Homo sapiens: one gene and its partners. The protein of the gene in region 2 purifies or fractionates together with the protein of the main gene of each other region. This does not show direct contact. Each region holds a gene or a part of one and is shown on either strand. Other genes may lie near its edges. The genes, in order: TAOK2, ZDHHC1 and DDI2.

Region 1 (10,169 bases), about 37 Mb from region 2:
GGATCACTTGAGCCTAGGAGGTTGAGGCTCCCGTGAGCTGGGATCGTGCCACTGCACTCCAACCTGCACGACAAAGTGAGACCCCATCTCAAAAAAATAAAGAAAGAAAGAAAATACAAGAAAAGGGCCGGGCACGGTGGCTCACGCCTGTAATCCCAGCACTTTGGGAGGCCAAGGCGGGCGGATCACGAGGTCAGGAGATCAAGACCATCCTGGCTACCACAGTGAAACCCCGTCTCTACTAAAAATACAAAAAATTAGCTGGGCCTGGTGGTGGGCACCTGTAGTCCCAGCTACTCGGGAGACTGAGGCAGGAGAATGGTGTGAACCCGGGAGGCGGAGCTTGCAGTGAGCCGAGATTGCGCCACTGCACTCCAGCCTGGGTGATAGAGCGAGACTCCGCCTCAAAAAAAAAAAAAGAAAATACAAGAAAAGAAGCGTGAAGACAGAGGCTCCCGCGTCACCTCTCATTTTCTTCCATTTTCTCTTCTGTGCCTTTCACAGGATCTTCTGCAGGACAACTGGTCCTTATCACAGCCAGGGTGACCACAGAAAGGACTGCAGGAACCTGCCTATATTTTAGTGCTGTTCCAGGAATCCTACCCTCCAGCCAGCCACCCATATCCTGCTCAGAGGAGGGGGCTGGAAATGCCACCCTGAGCCCTAGAATGGGTGAGGAATGTGTTAGTGTCTGGAGCCATGAAGGCCTTGTGCTGACCAAGCTGCTCACCTCGGTAAGAGCCTCAGATGGGTCGCCAGGGTTTTGTAGACTGCCTGCTGACTACTGTATCTTGAAGGTCCCTGGAAACAATTCTACCTTGTAGAAAAAGCACAGGTTTTATAACCCTGCCTTGGGGGCTGTGTGACGTAGAACAAGTGTCTAAACATCTCTGAGTGTCAGCATCCTCATCTGTAAAACAGAAAACATGACCCTATCTCTTAATTCCATCAAATAAGGATTAAATGAGAATGACCGTGAAGTGCCCAGCACATTGCCTGGGACATAGAGATTTGATAAGTGACAGCTATTGTTGTTTACTATTGTCTTTAAAACATTCTCTCTACTTCAAAGGAGTTCAGAAGCTATAATAAGAGGCAAATGGGCTAATTGCTATTAGAGAGATGTGAGCAAAGTGTTATGCAAACACAGAGAAAGGAGCCATTAACCCTAACTTGAACATTTATGGAGAGTGCATCACAGAGAAGGTGGCATTTACCAGAGAGCATTGTGCACAGTGGTTTATAATGCACAAAGTGCTCTCAGGGTTCATTAATTCATTTGATCTTAAAATAGCCTTTTGAGGTAGGTGTTATTATCCCATTTTACAGATGAGGAAACAGGTTTAGAGAAAGGGAGTGAATTGCTGCAGGCCACACAACTGGTTAAGTGGCAGAGCCAGGGTTGCAACCCACACCTTCTGTCAAGTCAGAATGATCCTTGAAGAATGAGGAAGATTTGGACAGGGACTGCAGTAGAGGAGGTTCAGGAGAGGGGGAGGTACACTCCAGGCAAAGGCACCAGCATGCGCACAGGCCTAGAGATTGAAAAGTGTTCAGCCAGGTGTCACATCTGTAATCCCAGCACTTTGGAAGGCCGAAGCAAGGAGAATGCCTGAGGCCAGGAGTTCCAGACCAGCCTGGAGAACATAGCAAGACCTCGTTTCTTTTTCGCTTTTTTTTTTTTTTTTTTTTTTGAGACGGAGTCTCACTCTGTTACCCAGGCTGGGGTGCAGTGGCACAATCTCGGCTCACTGCAAGCTCCACCTCACAGGTTCATGCCATTCTCCTGCCTCAGGCTCCCGAGTAGCTGGGACTACAGGCGCCTGCCACCATGCCCGGCTAATTTTTGTATTTTTAGTAGAGACAGGGTTTCACCTTGTTAGCCAGGATGATCTCAATCTCCTGACCTCGTGATCCACCCACCTCAGCCTCCCAAAGTGCTGGGATTACAGGTGTGAGCCACTGCGCCTGGCGACCCCATTTCTTAAAAAAAACATTTTTTTTTTTAATTAGCAGGGTGTGGTGGTACACACCTATAGTCCCAGCTACTCAGGAGGCTGAGGTGGGAGGATCCTTTGATCCCAGGAGTTTGAGGCTGCAGTGAGCCATGATTGTGCCACTGCACTCCAGCCTGGTTGCCAGAGTGAGACCCTGTCTCAAGAAGGAAAAAAAAAGAAAGTGTTCAGCCTTTGGGAGCACTCCATGTTGAGAGGCTTAGGAAGGAGAAAAGGCAAGAGAGACCACAGGGATTTGATGGAGAGGCTCTGTGAATGCAGGATAGAGGGCTATGACCTGATGCTGAAGGCCGTGGGGGCCACTGAGGAGTTTTAAGGAGGAGAGAGATGTGCTTCCCTGGTGCTGGGTGGAGAATGGCTGAGTGGAGGAGGGCCATCAGTCAGGAGGCTGCTGCACACTCCACTCTCACATTTGAAAATACCCCATGAGGCACGGTGGCTCACGCCTGTAATCCCAGCACTTTGGGAGGCCAAGGCCGGTGGATCACTTGAGGTCAGGACCAGCCTGGCCAACATGGTGAAACCCCATCTCTACTAAAAATTTAAAAATTAGCTGGATGTTGTGGCGGGCGTCTGTGATCCCAGCTACTCAGGAGGCTGAGGCAGGAGAATCTCTGGAACCTGGGAGGCAGAGGTTGTAGTGAGCTGAGATCATGCCACTGCACTCCAGCCTGGGCAACAGAGTGAGACTCCGTCTCAAATAAAGAAAAAAAGAAAAGACCCCATGAGGAGCACAACCTGGGACTTGGAATCAGAGATCTGGTTTCCAGATCTAGCACTGCTTGCACTTTTTTTTTTTTTTTTTTTGAGATGGAGTCTTGCTCTATCGCCCAGGCGGGAGTGCAGTGGCGCAATCTCAGCTTACTGCAAGCTCCGCCTCCCAGGTTCACGCCATTCTCCTGCCTCAGCCTCCCAAGTAGCTGGGACTACAGGCGCCCGCCACCATGCCCGGCTAAGTTTTTGTATTTTTAGTAGAGATGGGGTTTCACTGTGTTAGCCAGGATGGTCTCAATCTCCTGACCTCGTGATCCACCCACCTCGGCCTCTCAAAGTGCTGGGATTACAGGTGTGAGCCACCGCACCCAGCCACTTATACATCTTTAAACTGTGGATCATAATGAAGTTTCCTATCTCATGGAGTTATGATGGGGTTTCAGGTTGATAATTGGGCAAGAAAGTAGTTTTTAAACCATCAAGACAAATGTTCGAGCCTGGGCAACATGGTGAAACCCCATCTCTACAAAAAAACACACAAAAAATTAGCTGGGCGTGGTGGCACACACCTGTGGTCCCAGCTACTCAGGAGGCTGAGGTGGGAAGATCGCTGGAGCCCAGGAGGCGGAGGTTGCAGTGAGCCGAGATTGCACTACTGCACTCCAGCCTGAGTTACAGAGTGAGACCCTGCCTCAAAAAGAAAAAAAAAAAAAAGGGCCAGGCGCGGTGTTTCACGCCTGTAATCCCAGCACTTTGGGAGGCCGAGGTGGGCGGATCATGAGGTCAGGAGATCAAGACCATCCTGGCTAACACGGTGAAACCCCGTCTCTACTAAAAATACAAAAAATGAGCCAGGCGTGGTGGCGGGCACCTGTAGTCCCAGCTACTTGGGAGGCTGAGGCAGGAGAATGGCGTGAACCCAGGAGGCGGAGCTTGCAGTGAGCTGAGATCGCGCCACTGCACTCTAGCCTGGGCGACAGAGCAAGACTCCATCTCAAAAAAAAAAAAAAAAGACAAATGTCAGCTTATATGAAAATAACATTTTCCCTTCAGTTGCTCCCTAGATGTGGAGAGCCCTCTCCCTCATGGAGGCTCCTTCTATAGCCCTTGGACTGGATTAACATGTCCTCCTCCTCCTCTCCCTGTACCCCTCCCTAGGAGGAGCTGGCTCTGTGTGGCTCCAGGCTGCTGGTCTTGGGCTCCTTCCTGCTTCTCTTCTGTGGCCTTCTCTGCTGTGTCACTGCTATGTGCTTCCACCCGCGCCGGGAGTCCCACTGGTCTAGAACCCGGCTCTGAGGGCACTGGCCTAGTTCCCGACTTGTTTCTCAGGTGAGGTTCTTTGCTCCAGTCCTGCGGGAGCAGGGAATGGGGTGGGGGTGGGGGTTGTAACCGGGGTAGAGCAGATCCTTGGACTTTTCCTCAAAGACTGCTGCTTCTGAGTCCCCGAGAACCTCTTCAACCACAGCTCTCCCTTAGGGACTGGGAACAATTTGACACCGTCAGCATTCAATATTTTTCTAATTACTTTAACTTTTTTATTATAAAATAGTTAACACTTATGTAGAAAAGTCCAATAGTATAAAAGGACAGCTTGGCAAATTATTATAAAGTGGATACTTATAAATACCACTGAGTAGAATATTACCAGCTGTCCAGAAACCCCCCATGGTCCCTTCCTTCCTGACAATGCCCTCTCTCTCCCTAGAAATTACTGTCCTGCTTTATAATGTATTGCCATGTATGTATTCCTAAATAATATAGTTTGGTTTTACTTATTTTTGAAACTATGTAGACAGAATCATACACATTCTTTTGTGGCTGACTTCTTTCAAGCAACATTGTGATTTTAAGACTCATAACTAGTTCACATCCAAGCATTTGGGTAACAATGGTGAGTTAAGAGGGTTCACATTTGATGATTTGTCCTGAATATGAACCATGTTTGTCTTGCTTTTGTCCTGAAATTCCAATACCCAGTTTTATGATGGAAATTTTGTAAAATTCAACTTGAACCGCTCAGAAGAGTCTAACTGATGATACTCATTTACTGGGGACATAGTATGTGCCCAAGAACTTGACATGCACCTTCTGTCTTCCATTTAGTCATCGTTACCTTTAGAAAAAGCTGATTCCGTTAACAAGATCTTTGGAGGGAATCAGCTTCACAAACGTAGCAGTGGGTGGGGGTCATGTTGGTTAACCAGTTCACACATCAGCTCACTAAAGGAAAAAATATTTCTGCAAAAAATCTTCACTTGTCAGAGGGGGGTGCATGAAATTTGAGAGCCATGTGTTATGCATCCAGCTCTTGAACTGGTCTCAGCTTCAGCTGGCTGCAGTGCCCTAGGAAGTTACTATGGGAAAAGTGGAAATAGTTGAGGCCCAGGGAACTGATCAGGCCAGAGGAAGTGGAAGCTCAAGATCAACTGTGCTTATTTTGCTGATGGCTGGGCCTAAATGCCCCAACCACCTACTTGGGACAGGAAATGACAGGACCCTCTCAACCTTGGACTGGGAAAGGAGGGCTTCCTGGCCCCTGACAGACCCTGGGGTCCTGAGGCTACCTTAGTTGGGATTAAATGCCCGTATTGGTCTCTAGCTGTCACTCCCTCTGCTCCTTCCTCAATTTCTGCACACATCTCAGAGCTTCCTCTAGCAGCTCTTCGACCTGTTTTGTTGTTTTATTTTCTTTCTCCCCAGGTGTGAATCAACTTCTTGGGCCTTGGCTCTGAGTTGGAAAAGGTTTTAGAAAAAGTGAAGAGCTGGAATGTGGGGGAAAATAAAAAGCTTTTTTGCCCAGTGGCGTGTATGGTGTTTATTGGGGGTTGGATTGAGGTGGGGATTTTAGGGTAGGCAGGCTTAGAAGTTTTGGGGGACTCTTTCCTGTTGACTCTCTAGTTTGGACACAGGTTGGCATAGGGCATAGGTTACTTGAGCTCTCCCCATGGTTGACTTGGCTTTGGTAAACACCTGTCTTGTTTTCTTCTACGAAATAAAATGGATAATTACAGTTAGTTGGGCGGGTGGGGTGTCAGGTCATGGAAATGCTGTGACATAAATGCACTGTGACCTTGGCAAGTCTTGCAACCTGCAGCGCCTCAATTTCCGTAAGAGATTTGACCGATTGAGTTTTCCCAGCGTCGACGCGCAAAGATTCCTCGCACTTGGAGGCCCTTTTCCAGGTTAGATGGTTGCTAACCTCGGAGCAGTCTATTTTCCCGCCTTTTCCGCGCCCAGCAGCAGCTTCCTTTGCCCCTCCCAACTTCCACCCTGCGCGCAGTCGCAGATCGCCGCTGCTGTCCGTCCACCCGCGCCCCCTCAAAGCTTCCCCTAGCAACAAGCTCGGGCTCAGAGCGAAGGCGGGGCGAGCGCATGCGCTGCAGCTCTGTCCACCGCCAGTCGTGGGACAGAGTGCCGGGCTCCTCCCCTTGCAAGTCTAGCTCTTCTCCCCGCCTCCTCCGGCCTGGGGTCCGCGTGGCGGGGCGGGCGCGCACTCGGGCTTGGCGGCTGCCGGTCTCCCAGGCCGCGGCAGTGAGGAGAGAGGGCGGGGCTGAGTCCTCTGCGCCCCCGCCCCCTTTAGCCCGGCGTCCCTACCGCGCCTGCGCGCTCCCGCCCGGTCTCCATCTTGGAATTGGGAGGAAGAGGGAGAGGGAGACCGGGACGAGACCGGGGCTGTGGTGCGGAGAGAGGCTGAGACGGAGAAGAGGAGAGGCAGAGAGGGCGCGGGGACCGTCAGCAGCACCTTAGCTACAATCGTTCAGCTATTCTCGGAAGAGAGAAGGGAGAGGGAGGAGGCCGGGGCGGGAGTGGGGGCTGTCACCCTCGGACCCCGGCGTGAGAGGGGCCGTGCGGCCGGACGTCCTCGGGGTGGGCCCCCAGTCGGTGGCCGAAGACCTACAGCTCAGGCCCCTGGGTCCCAAATTTCCAGGCTTTGCCCCTCCTCCTTTCTCAGATACCCGGGTAACAGTCCTCATAGTCCAGATATCCGGGACTCGGGTCCCAACCTCTCTAAACCTGGGTCTCTGTTTCATAGAATTTCAAATATCAGGTTCAGGCCCCTGCGTGCACCAGTATCCGGGGTTCATTCCCCGGGCGTTCAAATATCGGATTCAGTCTCCATCCCGTTCAGATATTCGGGGTTCAGACCCCACAATCAGAAATCCGGAATTCGGCAGCTGTCGCCCTCGACGAGGGGGAGGACTGGACCGCGAGGTCAGATTAGGTTGTCACCCCCTCCCCTCCAGGGGAGGCTTCCCGGGCCCGCCCCTCAGGAAGGGCGAAAGCCGAGGAAGAGGTGGCAAGGGGAAAGGTCTCCTTGCCCCTCTCCCTGCTTGGCAGAGCCGCTGGAGGACCCCAGGCGGAAGCGGAGGCGCTGGGGCACCATAGTGACCCCTACCAGGTGAGACACGGGGTGCAGGGGCGCGGGTCCCTGTGTCTAGTTCTGAGAAGAAAGGGTGCGCCTTTCTGAGAAGCTGGACTTGGGTAGGCCCTCTCAGGATGGGGAAGCCCAGCTGAGCGAGTGGTCAGCCTCTGGCTAGCCTTGCCTTCTGTTGCCACCCCCTTCCCCTTCCTCTTCCCTTCATTGTGTCTGGTTGGTGGGGGACCTCAGGTGACAGGGTCTCTGATGTCACCGGCGTTCACACCCTAGGGTGCTTCAGCTAATCAGATGGATTTGCACTTCAGTCTTCTCTCCTTCACTTTGCCCCTCACAGCCACCTCTCCTCCCTGATATGTCCCGTTCTCCTGGCTATTCTGTGGTTTTGATTCCCATGCCTCTGATTCCCATGGTGGGTCTGCTTATCTGCTTTTCAGGCCTGGTCTGGTTGGATTTCTTGTCCTTGCAAGGAAGTGTGTGTATATGTGTTTGTGTGTATGCGTGTGTGTGTGTGCTTGGAGGTGCCTGGCAATGTTTTCCCCCAGCTGCAGTTACCTTCCAACCTCTTGCTGTGATGGTGTCAATAATCTCATCCATTTGTCAAACGATCTGTCTTTTACAAAGTGCTTTGACAGCCATTCTCTCATGTGACATCCCCGCATTCACCCTGTGGGGGCCTCTTTTATTGGCATCTTCCCATTTTACAGTTGAGAACGTTGAGGCCGAGAGAGGTTGCCCAAGGTCACACAGTGGCAGAACCAGAATTTGAACTCAAGTCCTCAATCACATCTTTCCCTGATGCATGCCTGGTTCTTGCCATCTCTTTTCCTCTGAGTTTGGGCTCGGCCAGGGGTCCCTAGGAGTCCAGGCTGGGGTGAGGTTTAAGAATGGGGATGAGATGAGCTTCCTTTCCAGGAGGGCTCTACTCAGAAGCTTTTCCTGATGGGAGCCTCTGGCTTTTGCCTCTGCCTCATGGAGTTTTCTATCCACTGTGACCTTCATCTTTACCCCAATCCCAGGGTTTGGCCTGGATTCCTGAGAGGGCTCTCTCCTGACAAATGGTAGCACTAGTGGCATCTTTTAACTGTTCAAGCCAAGCTGTTGGGGTAGAATGATCCCCCAAAGGATTAAAGCTTTGTGGGGACCTTGGAGGCAGGGAAGGAAAAATCCATATGCTGAGTGTCTGCATGGTGTTCCTAAGTATGAGATCTCATTAAAATCTTAACAACAGCTCCATGCTGTAATCCATTTCACTGAAGAGAAGACCAAGAACTGGAAGGAACTTATTTAAAGCCCTGTTGCTGTACATTGCAGACGGGATGTACTGGTAGCATAGCTTAGGAACAGATAGATACGGGTTTCCTCATCTGTAGAATGGAGATAACATTGTTCGTTTTGGAAGGTGGTTATGATTTAGCACAGACCTTGGTTATTGTTCAAGTGTTTGTTGTTATTATGGGGAAGGGGACCTGCATGATGTTTTGCCAGTGGGTGGCACCCCTCCGTGTGGCCTAGGTTAGCATTCTGGGGCCTTGTGTTGGTAAAGAGGTCAGGAAGATTCCTTTGGCAAGTTGAGAGCACCTGCCTTTGTGTGTGGGTGTGTGGTGCTGGTGAGGGGTGCTTGGCACTGTTGCTGGCAGAAGGGAGAAAAGGGCCGGCTTTGAGCAACCTGCGAGCTGCTGAGGGCTGAGCAGAGAGCAATCACTCAGTCTCCCAGGCTATTCTGAGCCCTCTGCACCCTGGGGGCCCACTGGAGAGTCAGGCTCCCTCCTTGCCCTCCAGCTTCCAGTTGGGCTGAGACAAAATTAACAACACAACAGGAAACAATGCATGACAGAATAAATTACATGCTAAAATTGTTAGGTGCTTTTGAGTAGCTAGAACTCTGCCCCAGGAGTCCAGCTCTGCTGAAGGCTCCTTTGTGCCTAAATTCTGACAAGTGCTTAGGCTGGAGCCTGTCTTGGAATCTCCTTGAGGGTTTTGGTTCTGGTATCCTGCAGGAACTTTCTCCGGGTGTTTGGTTGGGTGCCCTAGGTGCTCTTCCCAATGGCTGGAGTGGTCAGGACAGGCTTCCTGCAAGAGGGGAGCTGAGCTTGGGGTGACAGCTGAGAGAGTAATGGATACAGGCCTAACCGGGGAGCCGAAGGTCCTGTTCTCTGACCTTGGAGAAGTCCTTTTTCTTCTCTGTGCCTCAGTGACCTCACCTAGGAAATGGTGATCATGATTCTGCCCTGCCTGTTTCGAAGGGCTGCTCTGAAATCATAGTGATGGAGGACCAGCTTTGGACAAGGCACTTAACCTTGCTGAGCCTGTTTCTTTATCTGTAAGATAGGGGAAATCATAGTACTTGCTTCATAAGGTTGTAGTGAGGACTGAATAGAGATAATGCACGTAAGGTACTCAGTAAATGTTATTTGTACCCTGCAAATGTCCTGTACCTGTGTGTGATGCTTATGCAGTTGGACAGGACAAGTAAGGTGGCCCAGAGCACAGAGAGGCCCTCATAGCCAGATGCCATTTATATCCCTATTCTTCCCATTCTAGATCTCCCCCTGACTTTTTTGAGAGTGACTTTGCGGGCTCCTCTGGGCCAGTACCCACTTCTAACAATGGACGGATTTCCACCGCCTCCGGCCTGGCCATTTCCTGTTCTCTTCCAGGGTGTGAGAGGTTGAGGGAGGAGGGGGCCTCAGCGCCAAGGGGAACAGAAAGGTGCCTGGAAACAGTTGGGGTATAGGACTTATGGGACAGGACACTTGGGGCTCTGGAGTGCTGGCTGGGAAGCAGAATGTTTTATCCTTGAGGGGAGATACAGGGGCTATAGGGAAATGAGAACTTGTTGAGCACTGAAGGGGGTGGTGAGGATACTTAGCTTCCCAGAATCTTCCTAGCAGTTTTAGGGACTCCAGGGACCCAGCCCGCGTGATCTGGTTGCCAGGGCAACTTCATTTTTTGGAGCTTTGATGTTGTTCCTAATCTCCCCCTCCCCTTCCTCAGCAGTGCCTCCTCCTCATCAGGGAATGAGGGGAGGAGATGGCAGAAACTTGATGGGTCCCTTCCTCTCC
Region 2 (9,818 bases):
TCCACACACTCTTCTCAGGGGCCGTCTTGTTGGAGGGCTTGTTGCAGATGTTCATCTCCAGAGGGAGAAACAGTAGAGAGAGCATTAGCCCAAGAAGCTGGGCTGGAGCCCAGGGCCTGTGTCTGCAGCCAAGTTTCAGCACAGGGGGAGTAGGCTGCGACAGCTACTCTGCTGGGGAAACTGGGGTCCTAGCACAATAGAGATGGGCAGTGGGGAGAGGGTGGGAGTGGGCTGCTGTCTCAAAGCCCAAAGCAAACCCTGGCCCTAGACTGGCCAGGACAAGGTAGGAGGGCCCAGGATTTATTCAGGACACAGTGCTGCTGCCTGTAACTCAAAGTGCTGTCTTCACAGCCATCACAGTTAAACCCAATAAGACATGTTCTCATCTGGTAACAATATCAGGCTGGGGCCAGAGTGATGAGAACACATGCTGATTCTGTTAGGATTAGTCACCTCCTTCCTGAGGTCCAAATGCAAGTGTCAGACACCCCCGCTATCCTTTGCTCAGGGAAACGGGGAATGGGGTGCCCAGAAGGAGGATCTGCCCTCTCCCCCACGGTGGACAGAAAATCCCTTTAGGACTGGGGGAGTCTGAAGCTCTGCCCCATGCTGCCTGAGGGTTCTCAGCTGGGGAGGGGCCAGCACATGTGAGGAAGGGAAGGATTCCTCTTTAGTTCCCTTCAGCAGCAGAAATGACCACGTTTCTCTAAGTAAATCTGGGCCTGGTGTACAGTTTTGTACAGAAAGGTGGGCTAACGCCCTTGGACTCAGAGCCAGACCACCAGATGGCATCAACCACCCCCTCCACCCGCCACCCTCTAGCCGGACAGCTGGCCCAGGGTCCAGGGATGAATGCCAGGCAAGAAGGGGTAGGCTACAGGAGGAAGACCCCCATCCCCAGGATATGGGCCCAAGATGGGACAACAGCTCAGGCAGGCAGCGCCACACCTGGGAGACAGGCCAGCTCTGCGCTCATGGTGGGAAGGCCAGGAGCTGGGACTAAAACCCTGGTAGCTGAACTCTCCTTTCAGGAGCCCCTGCCCATGAGACAGGGAACCTAAGCAGAAAGGGTGCCGCAGACCCCGACTCAGTGCATCTTCCTGGATCACCTTTCTCACTTCTCAATCCACAGAATGAGGCTTGATCTTCAGAGCCAACTGCAAGGGTTGCCTCATCCAGGAAGCTTTCCCTGATGCCCTGAGTCAGGGGGCCCTTATGCTAAGTCATTGTTGGGCAAATTACTTTGCCATTTGGGACGCTTTGCAATCCTCATGTCTGCCCTCATTAGGACAACTTTCCCCAAAGGCAGCAAATGTGCTGGGTGGGGTTTATTCATCTCTGTCCCCTATGTCCCTTCCCCCAGGCACCCAAAATTGTACCTTGTACATAGTAGATCCTCAGTAAATGTTTGCTGACTTGAAAACAGCTGAAATAAAAGGAAACGTGGGCACAGTAAATGGTGTGGAATCCTGGTCCACCCTAAGCCATCTGGCCTGCTTTCTCCTGCCTTCCATCCATCCAGCCCTGCCCTCTTTCTGCAGGGTCGTGAACCCATGCCTCCCGCAGCCCATCTCCCTCTGCCGGCTGGCTACCACCCTGACTGCCAGACACTCACTCCTAGCCACCCTGCCCTTCAGCCCACCTGAGGCTCAGAGCCTCCTGCAGGCCAAGCCAAGCATTATTTGAAGTGACCTCTGAGTTGTCCCATCTCAAAGCTAAATGGAGGACTTAGTTTTCCCCCAGGGATTCAACTGGTGGTATTTGGGTTTTGGGTTTAGGGTTTTTTTTTTTCTTCTGAGACAGGATCTTGCTCTGTTGCCCAGGCTGGAGTGCAGTGGCACCATCACAGCTCACTGTAACCTTGACCTCCTGGGCTCAAGTGATCCTCCCACCTCAGCCTCCAGAGTAGCTGGAAGTACAGGCACGCACCACCACACCTGGCTACTTTATTTTATTTTTTTGTAAAGACAGGGTCCCACTATGTTGCCCAGGGTGGTCTCCAACTCCTGGACTCCAGACTCAAGAGATCCGCCAGCCTTGGCCTCCCAAAGTGCTGGGATTAGAGGCGTGAGCCACCGTGCCCGGCCTTGCTTTGTTTTGTTTTGTTTTTTGTTTTTGAAACAGGGTCTTGCGCTGTCACCCAGGCTGGAGTGCCGTGGCGCAATGATAGCTCACTGAAGCTTCAATCTCCTGGGCTCAAGTGATCCTCCTGCCTCAGCCTCCTGAGTAGCTAGAAATACAGCGGCGTGTTGCCATGCCTAGCTATTTATTTTTTATTTTTGCAGAGACAGTCCCACTATGTTGCCCAGGCTGGTCTCCAACTCCTGGGCTCAAGCGATCTTCCCACTTTATCCTCCCAAAGCACTGAGATTACATGCATGACCCACTATCCCAGCCCTCACTTTCTTTTGCATGTCCCCAAAGATAGCAAATCTTTGTCCTTGTATTGTGGAATTGTCAAAGGTCATCAGGTCAAGCCCTGTGAATATGATTGGGTTGGATGGTTCTGCTCTGGGGCCAATCTCTGTGGCTTGCACATCAGCTCCCCAGTGACACCATCACCAGGGCAATTACTTTGAAAGGAATCCATTAATTTGGATTCCTAAATTCTGGCTCTCCTTTTGCCATCCCCAAACCTGAACAACCCTACACCTTGCAGGAGTTTCCAAAGAGCAAAACAGACGCATGCAGCTGATCTGGCCCCACTGCCTGGCAGTGGCCACAGGCACCCCCAGAGCTGCTGTATCCCTGACTCCTGAGGCAGGAGGAGTCACCATCTGCAGCCAGGCGCCCGCCACTTACAGCCTTGGGGATGGCTCTGACTCCAAATCAGGATACCCCCTGATACTCCAAATCAGGATACCCGCTGATACTCCAAATCAGGATACCCCCTGATACTCCAAATCAGGATACCCCCTGATACTCCAAATCAGGATACTCCCTGATACTCCAAATCGGATACCCCCTGATACTCCAAATCAGGATACCCCCGATACTCCAAATCAGGCCCAGGAAGGGAGCACTTGTCTGAGGCTGTGGATGTGGGGATGGTGCTGCCAGGCAGACCTCCCTCAGCAGAGGCAGCATTCTGGTATAGACGCCCAGGCTGGCCCAGAGGCATGCCCAGGCCAGCCCACTCTTCACTGACGACATTTTCTCCTGCAGAGTTGGTGGCTACAAATTCCTTCGGCCCAAAAGATTTTGATTAAAAGGGCTGGGAGGTCGGAGAGAATCCAAGATGGGGCTCCCAGGCCCATGGATGGGACCAAGCACTGTCACCAGACCCCGGGACTTCTCTGGCTGTTGCTCCCCTCTCAGCACTTCTCTAGGAGACCAGATTGAAAGACATGTGGCTCTGTTCTCCAACGACGTAGCCAGCTGGCACCCTCTGACCTTGGCCAGTCAGCACTTATCGGAGCCCAGCCTGCGCACTTAGGATGTAAACACAGATGAGACCGGGTGCCTGCCCTCAGGGGCTTCTCTTCTGGGACCTGGACGGACACGAACAGATACCAGGGCAGTGGGTGAATGGGCATTTTGGCAGCCCATGCAAGGGCCAGCCATCCAATGTGGCAGAACACAGGGTGGACAGGTGGCGGGGGTGGGGGGTGGGGGAAGGAGGGAATGGAGAGCAGGACCCAGTGAGAGATGGGACTGAAGGAGTTGCGGGGCTCAGATCACAGGGGTCTAGGAGGCCAGGTGAGGACACATGGGCACTGCTGGAAGAGCCACATGGAGGCAAAGCAGGCTGAAGGCATGAGAGTGACCCAATGGCTCAGGGTGCTTTGGAAAACTTTCTAGCCAGTGGGGAGGAGGGCATGGGGGAAGCGGCACCACAGTGGCCCAGCAGGGAGCCCAGCAGCCCTGTGCTTTGGGAGAAACTTGTCAGAAGGTGGCGGTGAAGCCCACAAGCTCCTTGCTGCCCACCTGGCTACCTCCAGCTGCATCTTTGCAAGGCTCAGAGGTACACAGCCTTGGGAAAACATTCTTCATGTACCTTCTACTGCCACAGAACAAACCATAGAGAGTCAGGCTGGCCGGGATAAAGGGAAGACAGGAAGGAGGGTGTCCCGTGGCCTGGGTAAGCCAAGGACCCACCTGGCTTCTGAGGCAGGCAGGAGGGGCTGTGGAGGCCCCTCCCTTATCCCCCACAAGGTGAAAGCCATTGGCAGGATGACAGTAATCTGTTCACATTAACATTCACTTGCTAAAAGCCTTAGATGGTGTTTTCAATATAAGGTTAGGCTACCTTAATTAATTATTATTATTATTATTATTATTATTATTGTTATTATTTAGACTGAGTCTCACTCTGTCGCTCAGGCTGGAGTACAGTGGTATGAGCTCAGCTCACTGCAACCTCCACCTCCCAGGTTCAAGCGATTCTCCTGCCTCAGCCTCCCAAGTAGCCGGGATTACAGGCATGCACCACCACGTCCAGCTAATTTTTATGTTTTTAGTAGAGACGGGGTTTCACCATGTTGGCCAGGATGGTCTCAAGAACTCCTGACCTCAGATGACCCACTCAGCTCGGCCTCCCAAAGTGCTAGGATTACAGGCATGAGCCACCACGCCCTGCCTGCGTACCTTAATTTATATGCTTAAGTCAAATGAAGGAAATCTTAACATTTTAAGTTCTCATTACGAACTACATTATAGTTACATGAGTGACCCACTTTCCTCCTGCCCACCTCTGCTCCCAACAAAAAAAAAACCATTTAGGAATGTTGTTCTGAAATTCATGCCTAGCACTCTCAAAGGAACCACACCAAGGTGAAAAGTACCAGCCCTGGAGAGACTGCGGGCATCCCTGGATTCCTGCAAGCTACCTGAGGGCTTCAGAATCAAGTTAATTACTAAAGAGGGTTTGCCAGGAGAGGACAAGGAACTGGGAGGGCAGGGTGATGGGGTCAGAGGAGAAAGCGACGGGGTTGAAGCAGGTGCTTGGAGGGCCCTGCACTGCCAATGGGGAGACGCAGGTGGGATCAAAGGAAGAGGGCTGAGCCTGGAGTAGAGCCCTTTTCTGGTTCCCGAGCTGCCACTCACAGACTGAGGAACATTGGGGCAAATTTCACAGATCCACTTCTTTGGATCTCTTCTGTACTCATCTTTCAACAAAGTTCAGTGAAGCAATTTGGCAATATCCAAGTCTGGCGAAACTTTAGAACATATATGCCCTTTGACCCAGACATTCCATTTCTAGGTATTTATCTTATACATATACTCACAAAGATTTACTGCAGCATTGTTTGCAATAATAAAGGACAAAAGACAATACAAATAAACTATGGCACATCCATACAATAAAATGCTAGGCAGCATCAAAAGCAAGGGATAAAAAAAGAAAAAAAAGGGATGAAGTAATCTTTGATACACAATTAAGTGAAAAAGCAAGATGAAGAACACTTGTAGATGGCGCTACCAAGTGAATGAAAACAAAGGGGGCCGGGCGCGGTGGCTCACGCCTGTAATCCCCACACTTTGGGAGGTCGAGGAGGGCAGATCACTTGAGGTCAGGAGTTCGTGACCAGCCTGGTCAACCTGGTGAAACCCCATCTCTACTAAAAGTACAAAAATTAGCTGGGCGTGGTGGTGCGGGCCTGTAGACCCAGCTACTCGGGAGGCTGAGGCAGGAGAATTGCTTGAACCCGGGAGGCAGAGGTTGCAGTGAGCCGAGATCGTGCCACTGCGCTCCAGCCTGGGCAACAGGCGAGACTCTGTCTCAAAAAAAAAAACAAAAAAAGGCTGCGGGGATGGATAGATATCTACATTCCTATACGCACAGATTTTCTCCAGAATGAAATGCAAGAAACCAAACACAGGAGCATCCCCTAGGAATGAGACCTAGTGGTCCAAGAGCTGTAAGACAGAAATTGCATTTCCTGGTACTCCTTCAAACTGTTCAAATATATATATATTTTTATCATGAGCATGTACTGCTTTTGAAAAAAAAAAAGTATGTCTAATAATAAATGATTAGGGGATGTCACCTCCTGCCTTCCTGGCCCCACTGAGCTGCCTTGTGGATGAAACACACTCGTGTGATCTAGAGCCCTGTTATCATGCCAGACAAAGAATTCCTGCCTAACAAGGGGGCTTGGTTTTAGTGAAATGTTTTCTCACTCTTGAAAGCAATTCTAAGACGCTTGGCTGCAGAGCTATGAGGAAAAGCCACAGAACTTCCTATGAACTGTTAGGGATCTTGTCAAAGCTGGAATCACACAACCAGACAGCACAACAGAGGAGCTGCTAGGCAGGACCTGCTTCATCCTTGGCCACAGCCAACTCAGCTACCTGAGACTCCCAGAACCCGAAGGGAAAGTGCACTCCACAGGAAACTTTTGTTCCCATGCATCTTGTCCTTTTGCTAGAGGACTTGTGGTTTCCATGTGAGAGATTTTCTTCTCTTTTCTTTCACTTTTTTTTTTTTAAGACGGAGTTTCACTCTTGTTGCTCAGGCTGGAGTGCAGTGGTGCGATCTTGGCTCACTGCAGCCTCTGCCTCCTGGGTTCAAGTGATTCTCCTGCCTCAGCCTCCCGAGTAGCTGGGATTACAGGTGCCCGCCGCCACGCCCGGCTACTTTTTGAATTTTTTTAATAGAGACGGGGTTTCACCATGTTGGCCAGGCTGGTCTCGAACTCCTGACCTCAGGTGATCCACCCGCCTCGGCCTCCTAGCCACTGCACCCAGCCTATTTTTTTTTTTTTTAAGAGACAGGATCCTGCTTTGTTGCCTAAGCTGGAGTGCAGTGGTGCAATCATCGTTCACTGTAACCTCAAACTCATGGGTTTATGCAAGCCTCCCACCTTGGCCTCCCAAAGCGCTGGGATTACAGGTGTAAACAACCGTGCCCAGTCGGGAGATTTTCTATCTATGAGTATTCCTAAATGAACTTTCCGTTTCCCCCAGGATCTGCTTTTGAAATAATTTTCACTGAGATTTAACAGATGCCCAGTTGAACTACCTAAAGGGAAGCTAGAAAGAAAACACTTCACGGTACACAGATTTTTACACTGCAAAAAGTCATTTACAAAAGATTCTTTAGGGACAAGTACTTTGTTTATTAAAATTCCCCACAGGTGCCAGAGAAGTCTCTGGCCTTAAAATTCTGAGAAGCAGCTCTAGCTCAACTAACGGATGCGCATCACACAACTACCAAAAATTAAACTGGAACTTCAAGCTGTTCCCAAAGACCTCTCAAGTCACTGATCTCAGATGTGGCTGGGCCCTTGCTTTCTCTCTCATAAACAACAGGTGGAAGTCTGATGCTGGTTGGACCCAGTGGCTCATGCCTGTAATCCCAGAACTTTGGGAAGCCGAGGCGGGCAGATCACCTGAGGTCAGGAATTCGAGACCAGCCTGGCCAACATGGTGAAACCCGTCTCTACTAAAAATACAAAAATTAGCCAGGCATGGACGTGGGTGCCTGTAATCCCAGCTACTCTGGAGGCTGAGGCAGAAGAATCTCTTGAACCCAGGAGGTGGAGTTTGCAGTGAGCCGGGATCATGCCATTGCACTCCAGACTGGGCAACAGAGCGAGACTCCGTCTCAAAAAAAAAAAAAAAAAAAAAAAGTCTGATGCTATGGCAAGAAAAGCTTGAAACTCCAATTATTCCTGAGTTGACATGGTTTGCAAACATTTTCTGTGCCATTCTCCTCCTGAAGCAACCACTGCAAATTGTTTGGGATACAAATGAAGCCAAGGAAAGGGGACAAGTAGGAGGGAGTAACACAGAATAGAAACAAGGCCAGTGAAGAGAGGCCAAGGTTATTGACTTTAACCAGGAAATCAACTCATGACTGCAGGAGCCAGCCTTGGGGAACACCCACCACACAAGAGTCATTAAAAACAACGTTGTGACAGAACAAAGAAAGAAAAACAAAAACAAAACAAAACAATCTGGCTAATTAAGCACCACTGTTGCTTTTACTGCATCTCATGGTGATTATCTGTTTACAAACCCGTCTCCCACAGTGAACCACCAGTTCCACAAAAGCAGAGACCACCCCTCACCCGTGTCTGAACCCAGCTCTCTTTCAGTAAAGGAAGTCAAGCCACTTTTTTACCATCTCTGCTGTCATTACCCCAATCCAAACCTCCAGCATCGCTCTCCTACAGTGTTTGCATGATAATAACCAACACCAGCATTTAGAATGCACTTATTCTGTGCCAGGCACTGTTTCAGTGGAATTCACTCATTCAATCCTCATAGAGCTCTAAGGAAGGTCCTATCATTTCCAACTGTTCTTGTAGATCCCTGTAGTCACTGATTTCAGATGTGACTGGCCTCTCACTTCCTCATAAAAAACATACAGAACACCCACTCCCATCATGAGGACACTGAGGCTCAGAGACACTAAATGAGTTATTTTAGGAGGCACAGCTAGATTGGCAGAACTAGGATGGCCCTCAACTGACTTCCCGGTATGTCTGTCACAACCATGCTGCTCAGCAGCCAGAGTGAAGTGAGCTTTTCAAACGTGAAACTCATCCAAACTCTTCTTTGGGAGGCCAAGGTGGCTGGATCACCTGAGGTCAGGAGTTCAAGACCAGCCTGGCCAACATGTTGAAACCCCGTTTCTACTAAAAATACAAAAATTAGCTGGGTGTGGTGGCAGGCGCCTGTAATCCCAGACTTGGGGGGCTGAGGCAGGAGAATCGCTTGAACCCGGGAGGTGGAGGTTGCAGTGAGCCGAGATTGTGCCATTGCAGTCCAGCCTGGGTGACAGAGCGAGACTCCATCTGGAAAATAAAAATAAAAATAAACAAAAAATAAAAAACTCTTCTGCCGCTTGCAGTGGCTCACACCTGTAATCCCAGCACTTTGGGAGGCTGAGGCAAGAGGATCCCTTGAGACCAGGAGCTCGAGACCAGCCTGGGCAAAATAGTAAGACCTCATCTCTACCAAAACCTTAAAAAATTAGCTGAGCGTGGTGGCGGGTATCTGTAGTCTCAGCTACTTGGGAGGCTGAGGCGGGAGGATCGCTTGAGCCCGGGAGCCGGAGCCTGCGGTGACCCATGTTCACACCACAGCACTCCAGCCTGGGTGACAAAGGGAGACCTTGTCTCAAAAAAATAAAAAATTGGCTGGGAACGGTGGCTCACACCTGTAATCCCAACGCTTTCGGAGGCCGAGGCGGGTGGATCACCTGAGGTCAGGAGTTCGAGAACAGCCTGGCCAACATGGTGAAACCCCGTCCCTACTAAAAATATAAAACTTAGCCGGGCGTGGCGGCGGGCGCCTGTAATCCCAGCTACTCCAGAGGCTGAGGCAGCAGAATGGCTTGAACCCGGGAGGCGGAGGTTGCAATGACCCGAGTCGTGCCACTGCGCTCCATCCAGCCTGGGTGACAAGAGCGAAACTCCGTCTCAAAGAAAAAACTAAAACTCTTCCCATGGTTTCCTTTTAAAACAGACCCTCCATGACCAACCCCTCCATTTCAATACCAGAGAGCCTAACCCGACCTGAAATCACTTTAGTCATGTATGACATCCGCTTCCCAGCCCCCTTCCTTAATGCTCTGGGTTCTGGAGACAGACCACGTCTGTTGGGAGTCCTCTGTGCCCACGCCTGGCACAGAGCCTGGCAAAGAGTAAGCGCTCAAGGAAGATCTGTGAACTTGATGCATGCTAAAAGGAAGCCCCGCGCTCTGCCGGGGCCCTGGAACTCAGGCCACCGGCTCCAGGCGGAAGCGAGCCCAAAGCCGGCCAGGCGGCAGCATCCGCTACCCCGTGGCTCAAGCCAGGCTCCGAGGTGAGAAACCGGGCGGGGACTCCTCACCTGCGCGCCGCGGAGGCCGTGCCAGATGGGCCCTG
Region 3 (9,818 bases), on a different chromosome or scaffold from region 2:
GACATTCCTTCAACTCCAAAAAATATAGTTGATGGTCAAACTTGTCTGAACAACTGAATACTTTTCTTAAGGATAACTGTGCTTAATGTTATAAATGACAGTACACTAAGCAATTCCACAGTGATCAGAATTATAGCACAATCCTTGCACTATTAAGGATTTTAAATAAACTAAAAAATCAAAAAACAAACAAACTTGTCTCAAGTCTGGGACTATCCTGAAGCCTTTTTGGACCTCAGATAGAAAAAGAGAATGCTTAAACTCATGATGTAACATTTCTACCCTTTAGCAGGGGTTCAACTAGCCACTTTCTTCAACTCCCAACCAAGGAAATGGTGAAGTGAAGAGGATGATCTCTGTGAGGTAGTTAATCTATACCAGCCAGAAAAACATATATGGGTGGGCCCTCTTTGCAGGTCAAGAAATTTTATCTCCACTCCTGTTATACATTATCTTGAGAGTCCATTCACTTCAGAATAATTCTCAAAAACATGTTTACTTAATAGACCAGATCACTCCTGCCCCAACCTGTTACAGGCTCTCTTGTCCATAAACAACAATGCAGAGGAAAAAAAAAAAGAAGTAAATTCCGGAATTAATAATCTCATCAAATTAACCAAAGGAAGATGTGGTTTTTACTGATTGTCATAGTTGTTTAAATACGTTTAACTTCTTCAGAAAGAAGTTTTAACTTCTTTCTAAAGTTTAACTGTGGCCCCAAGGGACTAATGTCTTCCAGATCTGGTGGAGCCGGTCCTTGATGGTCTCAGTAAGTTCCAGTTTCAGGCTGAATGGAAACACTGTGGTTAAAACTGCAGTCAGTCTGTCATCACCCAGACTCTGCCAGCATCTGTCACCATAAACTTTAAAACTGGTGACCTACAGGCTAAACACTATTTAAGAAAATCTATCTGAATATGGCAGCGAATGGAAAAAAACCACACATTTCACCAAGCTGTTTCACATTAAGACCTTATAATCATTTTGTGGATCATGAGCCACTTCAAGTATCTGAACAAAGCTATGACCCTCTCTCTATCCAGTGCACACACACATTCACATCCACACAATTCTGCATATTATTTCAGTGACATAGAACCTACTAAATCCCAATGCACAGAGTTCAGACTATAAACATCTATTATAAAAGCAGCATCAAAGATAGATAAACGTTTCTTTGTATGTGATTAACACAGCTGGTAGGAAAGAACCACAACTTGGTGGTCAAGCTGCTTAATGTTTATCAAGTTCAGCATAATGGAAAAAGCATCAAATTTTAATTCCTGTGCCCTCACTTAATAGCTATGTAACTTTAAAGACACCATTTAAAATCTGAGCTTCATAATTATAAATTATTATGCAAATTAGTATGTAAATCCCCCCACAACCAAGTTATGAGATCATGTGAAATGCAGCTCCAAGTGCCTGGCTGGCTATAAAATGCTCCAGAAAGGCTGGCCACTGAAGGACAGACACAAAGTAGCAAAATCATAGGCTTATGTATTCTTTCAAGTCCTTCCCAAGGATAAAGATTATTGTATAATTATCACTGATAACAGAAGCTAACATTTATTGAGGGCTTGCTGTGTGCTAAGATTTTACATGCATTAGCCTCACGTCAGCTTTAGGAGTTGGGGTTAATTATGGCACCTAACTTATAGAAGAGGAAACCAATTTAGAGACATTAAAATACTTGTTCAAGGTTACACGGCAGGGAAAAGGCAGAGTCAGGATCTGTATTCTGTAGTCTGAATCCAAAGCGAATCCAAAACTCTGAGGTGCTATGCTCTGCTACCTGCTGATGGTTCTGCTGGGGGATGCTCAACCACCAGATGTCTTACTTGGGAACTGCACTGGAGGTCGAGGGTCTGCATTCTCCTTCTGTCGTAAAATCACAACGTCCCCATCTTTCAAGCCATAAGAAGCCAATGATCTGTGGTTGTCTGTGAGAGGTCTTTCCGCATAGACGATCTACAACAAGAAAAGATATACAACAGTATAAAGCACTGAGAAGTAACACAGCGCAAGGCAGAAGGACCAGTTTTCCCCTGAATCAGATGTCACCCTCCTTTCAAACCCTCCAGTGGATTCCCACCACATCCAGAACAAAACCCACAGTCCTTCCCGTCACCTAGCAGGACCAAACAATGTGGTCCCTGGCTCTCCTGACTTCGCCTTTCACTATGACTGCTGTTCCTCAAACAACAGGGATCAACTTCCCCTTCAGGGCTGTTTCTCTTGTTTTCTCTACCTGAGGAATGTTCTTTTTCCACTCATTTTTTTCCTTTTACGTCTCTGATCAAACATTACTCTTTAGAGTTCTTCCCTACTATGTTATTTAAAATGTACTCTCAACTAACACAATATATATTTACTTATTGTCCTTCTGCCCCATTAAATGTAAACTACTTGAGGACAAAGACTTTGTTTCATTCACGAGATCATAAATGCTTAGAACAGGGCCTGTTATATAACTGATGCTCAAATATTTGTTGAACTAAAGAATGAATGAATTTATGGAAATGGATATAATTTTAGATTTAATTTTTAGCAGGGAGGAAAAGGGAATGATTTATTCTGGGTATGCTAACTAACTACAGTACTATTAAATAAAGTGTGCACTTTGAAATAATCTTGAACACTGGCAAAAGGGTCCCAAATATCATCCTTCCTGCACTGCAATCTTCCTTCTCTTCTACCACCCCCAAAGTTTTATCACTCTGGGCCGGGCACGCTGGCTCACGCCTGTAATTCCAGCACTTTGGGAGGCCAAGGCGGGTGGATCACGAGGTCAGGGGTTCGAGACCAGCCTGGCCAACATGGTGAAACTCCGTCTCTACTAAAAATACAAAAATTAGCCCAGTGTCGTGGCACGTGCCTGTAATCCCAGCTACTCCAGAGGCTGTGGCAGGAGAATTGCTTAAACCCGGGAGGCAAAGGTTGCAGGGCTGAGATCGCACCACTGCACCCTAGCCTGGGCAAGCAAGATTCCATCTTGGTGGGGTGGTGGGAGGGGGGAGACTGGAAAATAAAGTGAAACTAAGAAAATAACAACTAAATACAAGTGGAAAAAAGAATTAGGAATGTACTACTAATAAAAATATTTTATGATGTGTAATCAAACTGAAAAAAACCTGACAGCACAAATAGATGAAATAATGTGTTGCAGATAGAAAGAACAAAGGTACACTATAATTTTATCATGAAAAAACATAAAATCTGCCCTGCATTATTACATACTCCAGAAAGGCATTCAGAACAAACTCAGGCTTTGAAAGGTTTTCCTCCTAATGATTTTTCACCAGGCCACATGCGAACTGAGGAACATGAGTTCTATCCTTGCCAGTAACTCCCTGCGAGGGGCATGACACTCAGCAGGTCCAGACCTCACCCTTCCCATGTGTCAAGCAAGCAGGTGGGCTAGATCATCATTACAGCTGTCCCTTCCAGTTCTCTCTGCTAACATTATCATTCTATGTTTCCTTACAGCTTTCATAGTAAGGTTACCTGAAATAAAAACTGAAAACACAGCATTTAAACTGGAAAAAAAGTGATTATGCCATATCTGCTCTCAGAATTTATAGACATGAGGAACAGAACAGGAAAATGAGTTCCTACCAAAATCAAATTCTTCTGAATATGAGCAAATTTGTAGGCCCAATTATACAAGTTTTATGCATGACTTGAAAAAAAATACTATTAAGTCCTTAATGCTCAACTCGCTGAGTTAAAACACATTTCAGATCTGGTATGATGGCTCATGCCTATAATCCTAGCACTTGGGGAGGCTGAGGTGTGAGCATCACTTAACCCATTTAGGCCAGAGGTTGCAAATTTTCTTTTGTGAAAAAATCATACCTTGGCAATGACCTTGAGTAGTAGGATATAACTCCCACAAGCTTAGCGTTCCATTGGAAGGCTAAGCACAAATGGGTTAAGCCCTGGAGTTTGAGACCAGCCTGGGCAACATAGTGAGACCGCATATCTAAAAAAAAAAAATTTTAAATAGCCAGCCATGGTAGCATGTGACTGTAGTCTCAGCTACTTAGGAGTCTGAGGCAGGAGGATTGCTTGAGCCCAGGAGGTCCAGGCTGTAGTGAGCTGCGGTTGCACCACTGCACTCCAGCCTGGGGCAACAGAGTAAGACCCTGTCTCTTAAAAAACAAAAACAAACAAAAAAAGAACCACATTTCAACAGACTGCAACTGTCACTCCCATCATCCCATTCACACACCCTCATTTAAACACAAATTTCACAGTAAAAGTACATCACCATCAACACAGAATTTCAGCAAAACAACTGAGAGTCATATTATAACTTGTGAGACTGCTTGGAAAAAACACATAAACCAGAAGTGATGAGCGTCACAGGTTGAGGTGTGCAACAAGAAAAAAGAGGTATGTCAAGAGAAATGGCAGGTAGGCAGGCTCTTACAGCATAGCATCAACACTGTGAAGCCACTGTCAACAACCTACTCTTTAATTTTCCAGTTTCAGAAATTCAACTATCAGTATATTTAGAGATACATGAACAGTCTCCTGGGAGCAGAGGCACATTTTAACGGTATTTATTTATTTATTTATTTTGAGACGGAGTCTCGCTCTCGCCCAGGCTGGGGTGCAGTGGCGGGATCTCGGCTCACTGTAAGCTCCGCCTCCCAGGTTCTCCTGCTTCAGCCTCCTGAGTAGCTGGGACTACAGGCACCTGCCCCCACAAGCGGCTAATTTTTTTTTTGTATTTTTTGTAGAGACGGGGTTTCACCATGTTAGCCAGGATGGTCTCGATCTCCTAACCTTGTGATCTGCCCGCCTTGGCCTCCTAAAGTGCTGGGATTACAGACGTGAGTCACTGCGCCCGGCCACTAACTATTTATAAGAGAAAATTTATTTATTTACAAGGAGGAAGCAAACTCAGGAGAATCAAAATGATCCTATGCAGGCTGGGTGCCATGGCTCACGCCTTAATTCCAAAACTTTGGGAGGATGAGGTAGGAAGATCATTTGAGGCCAGGAATGCAAAGCCAGCCTGGGCAATACAGCAAGACCCCATCTCTAAAATAATAATAATAATAATAATAATAAGCCAGGCATGGTAGCATATGCCTGTAGTCTCAACTATTTGGGAGACTGAAGCTGGAGGATCACCTGAGCCCAGGAGTTCGAGGTTGCAGTGAGTTATGATTGTACCACTGCACTCCAGCCTGGGCAACAGAATAAGATCTTGTCTCTTAAAAAAAAAAAAAAAAAAAAAAGAAGAAGAAAACTGCAATTGGAACTGTCTAATTTCAAAGCCCATTACTCCAGGAGTATCATATACAGCTTTCCCGAACATAACCCTAAAGTGGCCTGGTGAATTAGCTGGGTGATTTTAACAAGTACTACTAAGCCATCCATTGCCACTAAGAGACTCTATCCACTAAGAGGATCAAAATACTGTCCACTGCTCAACGCATCCCCATGCCCTGGACATGAAGAAACACCACCAACTGCCCGCTCTGACTCCCACTTCACAGATGCCATACTTCACTCCATCACTGCTTAGTTGCCACAATATTTCCTCAGCAGACAATAGCATTTTTTAAAGGAAGGCAGCATGATCTAACAATAAAAATGTAAAATCTAGATAACCACCACATTGAGCATGTCTATGAAATATGAAATGTTGCTTCAGCGCCAATTTCCTGGAAACACTAGACTGAAGAACCTGGGTGAGGCGCACACGTTCCTCACACTGACGAAGCAGCAGCTGTGCTCCATTTTAATCTAAGGACATAAATGAGATCAACTAAAGCTTAGCTAAAATTGTAATTGCCACAAAGAACTGATTTCTTTTTGTTTAAATAGGCTTAAGAGTCCAAGAAAGACAATTATTTTGCAGCAAAAGTCCCAAAATAAATCCATGTGATCTTCCAACCAAACATTCAGTATCTATTAGACATGGCTTCAAATCTCTACCAATAAAAACAAAAGGGGATCCGCTGCCGGCATTCTTGATCCTTCCACCATTCATGTTACCCAACTCAACAGCTACAAAGCCCAAAATTCAAGTTTTGCCAGTTATAAGAACATACAACAAGAAAATGTATACAGCTATGAGTCTTAATCAGCAAAACTGGCACAACTGCTGGTACTTACTCCAGAGGAGGCACCCCAGAGACTGAATTATAATCTTAATCAACATTTAACAATAGACTAATTAATAAAACTTCAGAACTTTTAAGCATGAGGTCAGGTGTTTTCTGGTCTCTGAATGAGAGCCTTCTATTAACAAAAAGCTTAACAATAAATTTCTAGCATTACAGAACATAAACTAGTAGGCCAGGTGCAGTGGCTCACACATGTAATCCCAACACTCTGGGAGGCAGAGGCAGGAGAACTGCTTGAGGTTAGGAGTTCAAGCCTAGCACTGGCAAGACCTCGTCTCAAAAAAAAAAAAAAAAAGTCGCAGCTACTTGGGAGGATCCCTTGACCCCAACATGTTGAGGATACAGTGAGCTGTGATTGCAACACTGCATTCCAGCCTGGGCGAGAGCGAGATCCCATCTCTAAAATATAAAGAATAAAGATAAAATAAGGACCATAAACCGGCCACAAAACATTTGGAATTACATCTGAATGGCTTCATAATAGTATTACCATTAATCAAATACCCAATATCTACCAAGTTATCTACATATACTACCCCATGTAATAGCCAATTTGACTTGTATAATCTAAATTTACTAAAAACCTTTCAAAGACTTTATGCTTTTGATCTGGCAACTGCATATCTAAGAATTCATCCTGAGAAAACAGAAATGGAGGCTACAGTCTTAAGTATATGGATGTTCATGGCATGTTACTTACAACTGCTTCCAATTTTCCCCAATATTATGCTCAACAAAAGGGAAATTGCTAAATTACAACACATCTATATGATGGTATATTATGTAGCCTTTAAAATTATCAATTTGGGGCCGGATGCGGTGGCTCACGCCTGTAATCCCAGCACTCTGGGAGGCCAAGGCAGGCAGATCATCCGAGGTCAGGAGTTTGAGACCAGCGTGGCCAACACAGTGAAACCCCCATCTCCAAAGAAAACAAAAAAATTAGTCATATGTCGTAGCATACACCTGTAGTCCCAGCTACTTAGGAGGCTGAGGTGGAAGGATCACTTGAGCCCAGGAGGTTGAGGCTACAGTGACCTGTGAGCGCACTACTGCCTAGGTGACAGAGCAAGACCCTGTCTCAAAAAAACAAACACACAGAAGATAAAATAGTGGTTTACAAACCACAAATCATGCTGTGTGCATTTCCAAGATCATACAATTACTGCTATTATTTGCCTTTCATTTGAGGGTCCTTGTATGTTGTGCCTACTTTTTCCATATGCCACCTACAGAGGTAAATTATCATGTCTCAAAAATATGAAGACATTAATTTAAAGTGAAGCTAAGTTCTGATAACTGTTTGAAGTTCACCCAGGCAAGTCTGCATCAAAGCATCAAACAGAGCCATGACTGGCTTCCAAGCCCACACTTCTATTAAGAGACAGAACATGCCCAGCTTTAATCACATGTACAAGCAGAGATGGCTTGTTCTAAATTTGTTATCACTGCATTGTAACTACTATCATCAGACTAGAGCTGTTAAAAATTAACACCTTTTCCAACTATATGCTTATGTGCAATTGACACTCAGGTGAAAGACTGAATTCTAAACCATTGATCACCAATGTAGGGCAGCCATGCAAGACAATTCTTTAACGGTGGAGGAAGAAACTGAAAATATTAGAATTTTCATTTCCATTTATTTTAGTTCGTCCTTCCTTAAGCTCCATTTTGTGTGTGTACAATGTTACTTTACAGATAACATATTATATATGCATATAATGCACGTTATGTGTATTATATGCACATGTGGCCATATATAATGTATACAACGTATCAGTTCATGTATATAATGTATTATATACATAACAGAAGCATAATCTGAAACATTTTACTGATAGGGATACATGAATGAAAGTTTGGACACCAGTGGTGTGGACACATAGTGGCAGGAAAAAATAGCCAGAACATAAAAATATATATATTTCCTTGAAGAAATGGAATCAGAAATGAGAGGTGAAGGAATGGGAATGGAGAATGTAAACAAGAGGAGGAGTTAAACAGTCTAGGAAAGGAAGGGAAGATGAGTAATATGAGAGAACCCTGGGAGGTAATGGGGGGGGACACTCAAGTAAGTAAACATGATATATTTATGGGTAAAAACTATAGTGATGTTTACTATTATGATTTGATGAAAGGAAATGACTCAAGTGTCTAGGGTGGATCCTGTTCCTGCCTGATGGGCAAGCAAGCAAGTGAAAGACAACCGACCACCAGACACCTTAAAATAGATACTGTGTTGTCAGGTTACAATGGAGCCAACAGAACAGACTGGAAAAACAGGAGCTGTTTATGGCTATCTAATACAGGCTTAACACCAGTTGGAGCCCAAGTTTCTATATGCTAATTTGGCTTGGGAAGGAAGTAAATGCCGAAACATTGACATAATGAACAAGAAATAATTTGGAGTTAGCCTATGTTCAATTACTAAGGTATTCCTAACTTTACCAACTGGCAGAGGGCAATGTCTGGCTGACCACACAATAAATCGTCTTTTATGATGGCTGTAACAAGAAATTTAAGTCAATTAAAGGGGGTGTCAGGTATCCCTTTGACTTAAATTTCTTGTTTCAGCCATCACAAAAAGTGCAGGAATGGAAACAACCTCAACCTCTGTCTTTTCCCAAGCCCTAACAACAAAATCAATTTACATTTTAATTTCTTATTTTCCCTACCAGCCGGTGATCATAACCAGGGTAATATAACAGCTAGAGGAAAAAACAATTGAAAAAGCCACTATCGGGCCGGGTGCGGTGGCTCACAGCACTTTGGAAGGCCGAGGCGGGCAGACCACGAGGTCAGGAGATCGAGACCATCCTGGCTAACATGGTGAAACCCCTTCTCTACTAAAAATACAAAAAATGAGTCGGGCGCGGTGGTGGGCGCCTGTAGTCCCAGCTACTCGGGAGGCTGAGGCAGGAGAATGGCACGAACCCGGGAGGTGGAGCTTGCAGTAAGCCGAGATCGCGCCACTGCACTCCAGCCTAGGCGACAGAGACTCCGTCTCGAAAAAAAAAAAAGAAAAGAAAAGAAAAGAAAAAGCCACTATCAAAAATTGAAGAGTTGTCCGGGAACGGTGGCTCACACCTGTAATCGCAGCATTTTGGGAGGCCGAGGCGGGCAGATCACTAGAGGTCAGGAGTTTGAAATCAGCCTGGTCAACATGGTGAAACCCCGTCTCTACTAAAAAAAAATTACAAAAATTAGCCAGGCGTGGTGGCGCGCGCCCGTAGTCCCAGTTACTCAGGAGGCTGAGGCAGGAGAATCGCTTGAACCCGGGAGACTGGGGTTGCAGTGAGTCGAGAACGCACCACTGCACTCCAGCATGGGCGACAGAGCAAGACTCCGTCTCAAAAACAAAAACAAAAAAAGAAAAAAAATTGAAGAGTTTATTTTCTCTATTTAAACAGTCCTTTCCTAGTTCTCCACATGAGGCATTCACTGACAGAACTGGTTCCTGAGCTTTTGTGGATTAACTTTTTAAATTCTTTCTGAACAGCTTTATGCCAAGGTTCTAAAGTTCACATTGTGTAAAGGAATCATACTTCTGAACAAAGTATTGACACGTGTTTACCATAAGACAGCAGAACAAGCTGCAGTTGGGCAATCGTTTTGTAAACTATTTCATAACTGCAGTAGAAAATCAAGATTTACTTGATGGAGACTTGG

What was found.
Region 1: the proteins of ZDHHC1 (region 2) and TAOK2 purify together in Homo sapiens (affinity purification with mass spectrometry; 2 studies listed by BioGRID and IntAct, with this or other methods). This does not show direct contact.
Region 3: the proteins of ZDHHC1 (region 2) and DDI2 purify together in Homo sapiens (affinity purification with mass spectrometry; 2 studies listed by BioGRID and IntAct, with this or other methods). This does not show direct contact.

Annotation. Positions count from the first base shown.
Region 1 is NC_000016.10:29,967,521-29,977,689, forward strand, and holds the start of TAOK2 (serine/threonine-protein kinase TAO2), read left to right. Parts: upstream 1-6,347; 5' UTR 6,348-6,476; coding exon of another isoform or gene 6,477-7,115; 5' UTR 7,116-7,128; intron 7,129-10,169. Other genes in the region: TMEM219 (insulin-like growth factor-binding protein 3 receptor isoform 1 precursor), read left to right, coding at 505-734, 3,888-4,025; uncharacterized protein LOC124903762, read left to right, coding at 6,102-6,260, 6,477-7,115. UniProt on the Homo sapiens protein: Serine/threonine-protein kinase involved in different processes such as membrane blebbing and apoptotic bodies formation DNA damage response and MAPK14/p38 MAPK stress-activated MAPK cascade.
Region 2 is NC_000016.10:67,406,388-67,416,205, forward strand, and holds part of ZDHHC1 (palmitoyltransferase ZDHHC1), read right to left. Parts: 5' UTR 9,784-9,818; intron 9,757-9,783; exon of another isoform or gene 9,516-9,756; intron 3,492-9,515; exon of another isoform or gene 1,427-3,491; 5' UTR 1,389-1,426; coding exon 1,380-1,388; intron 56-1,379; coding exon 1-55. UniProt on the Homo sapiens protein: Palmitoyltransferase that catalyzes the addition of palmitate onto various protein substrates, such as NCDN and NLRP3. Has a palmitoyltransferase activity toward NCDN and regulates NCDN association with endosome membranes through this palmitoylation.
Region 3 is NC_000001.11:15,618,822-15,628,639, reverse strand, and holds part of DDI2 (protein DDI1 homolog 2), read right to left. Parts: intron 1,972-9,818; coding exon 1,842-1,971; intron 1-1,841. UniProt on the Homo sapiens protein: Aspartic protease that mediates the cleavage of NFE2L1/NRF1 at 'Leu-104', thereby promoting release of NFE2L1/NRF1 from the endoplasmic reticulum membrane.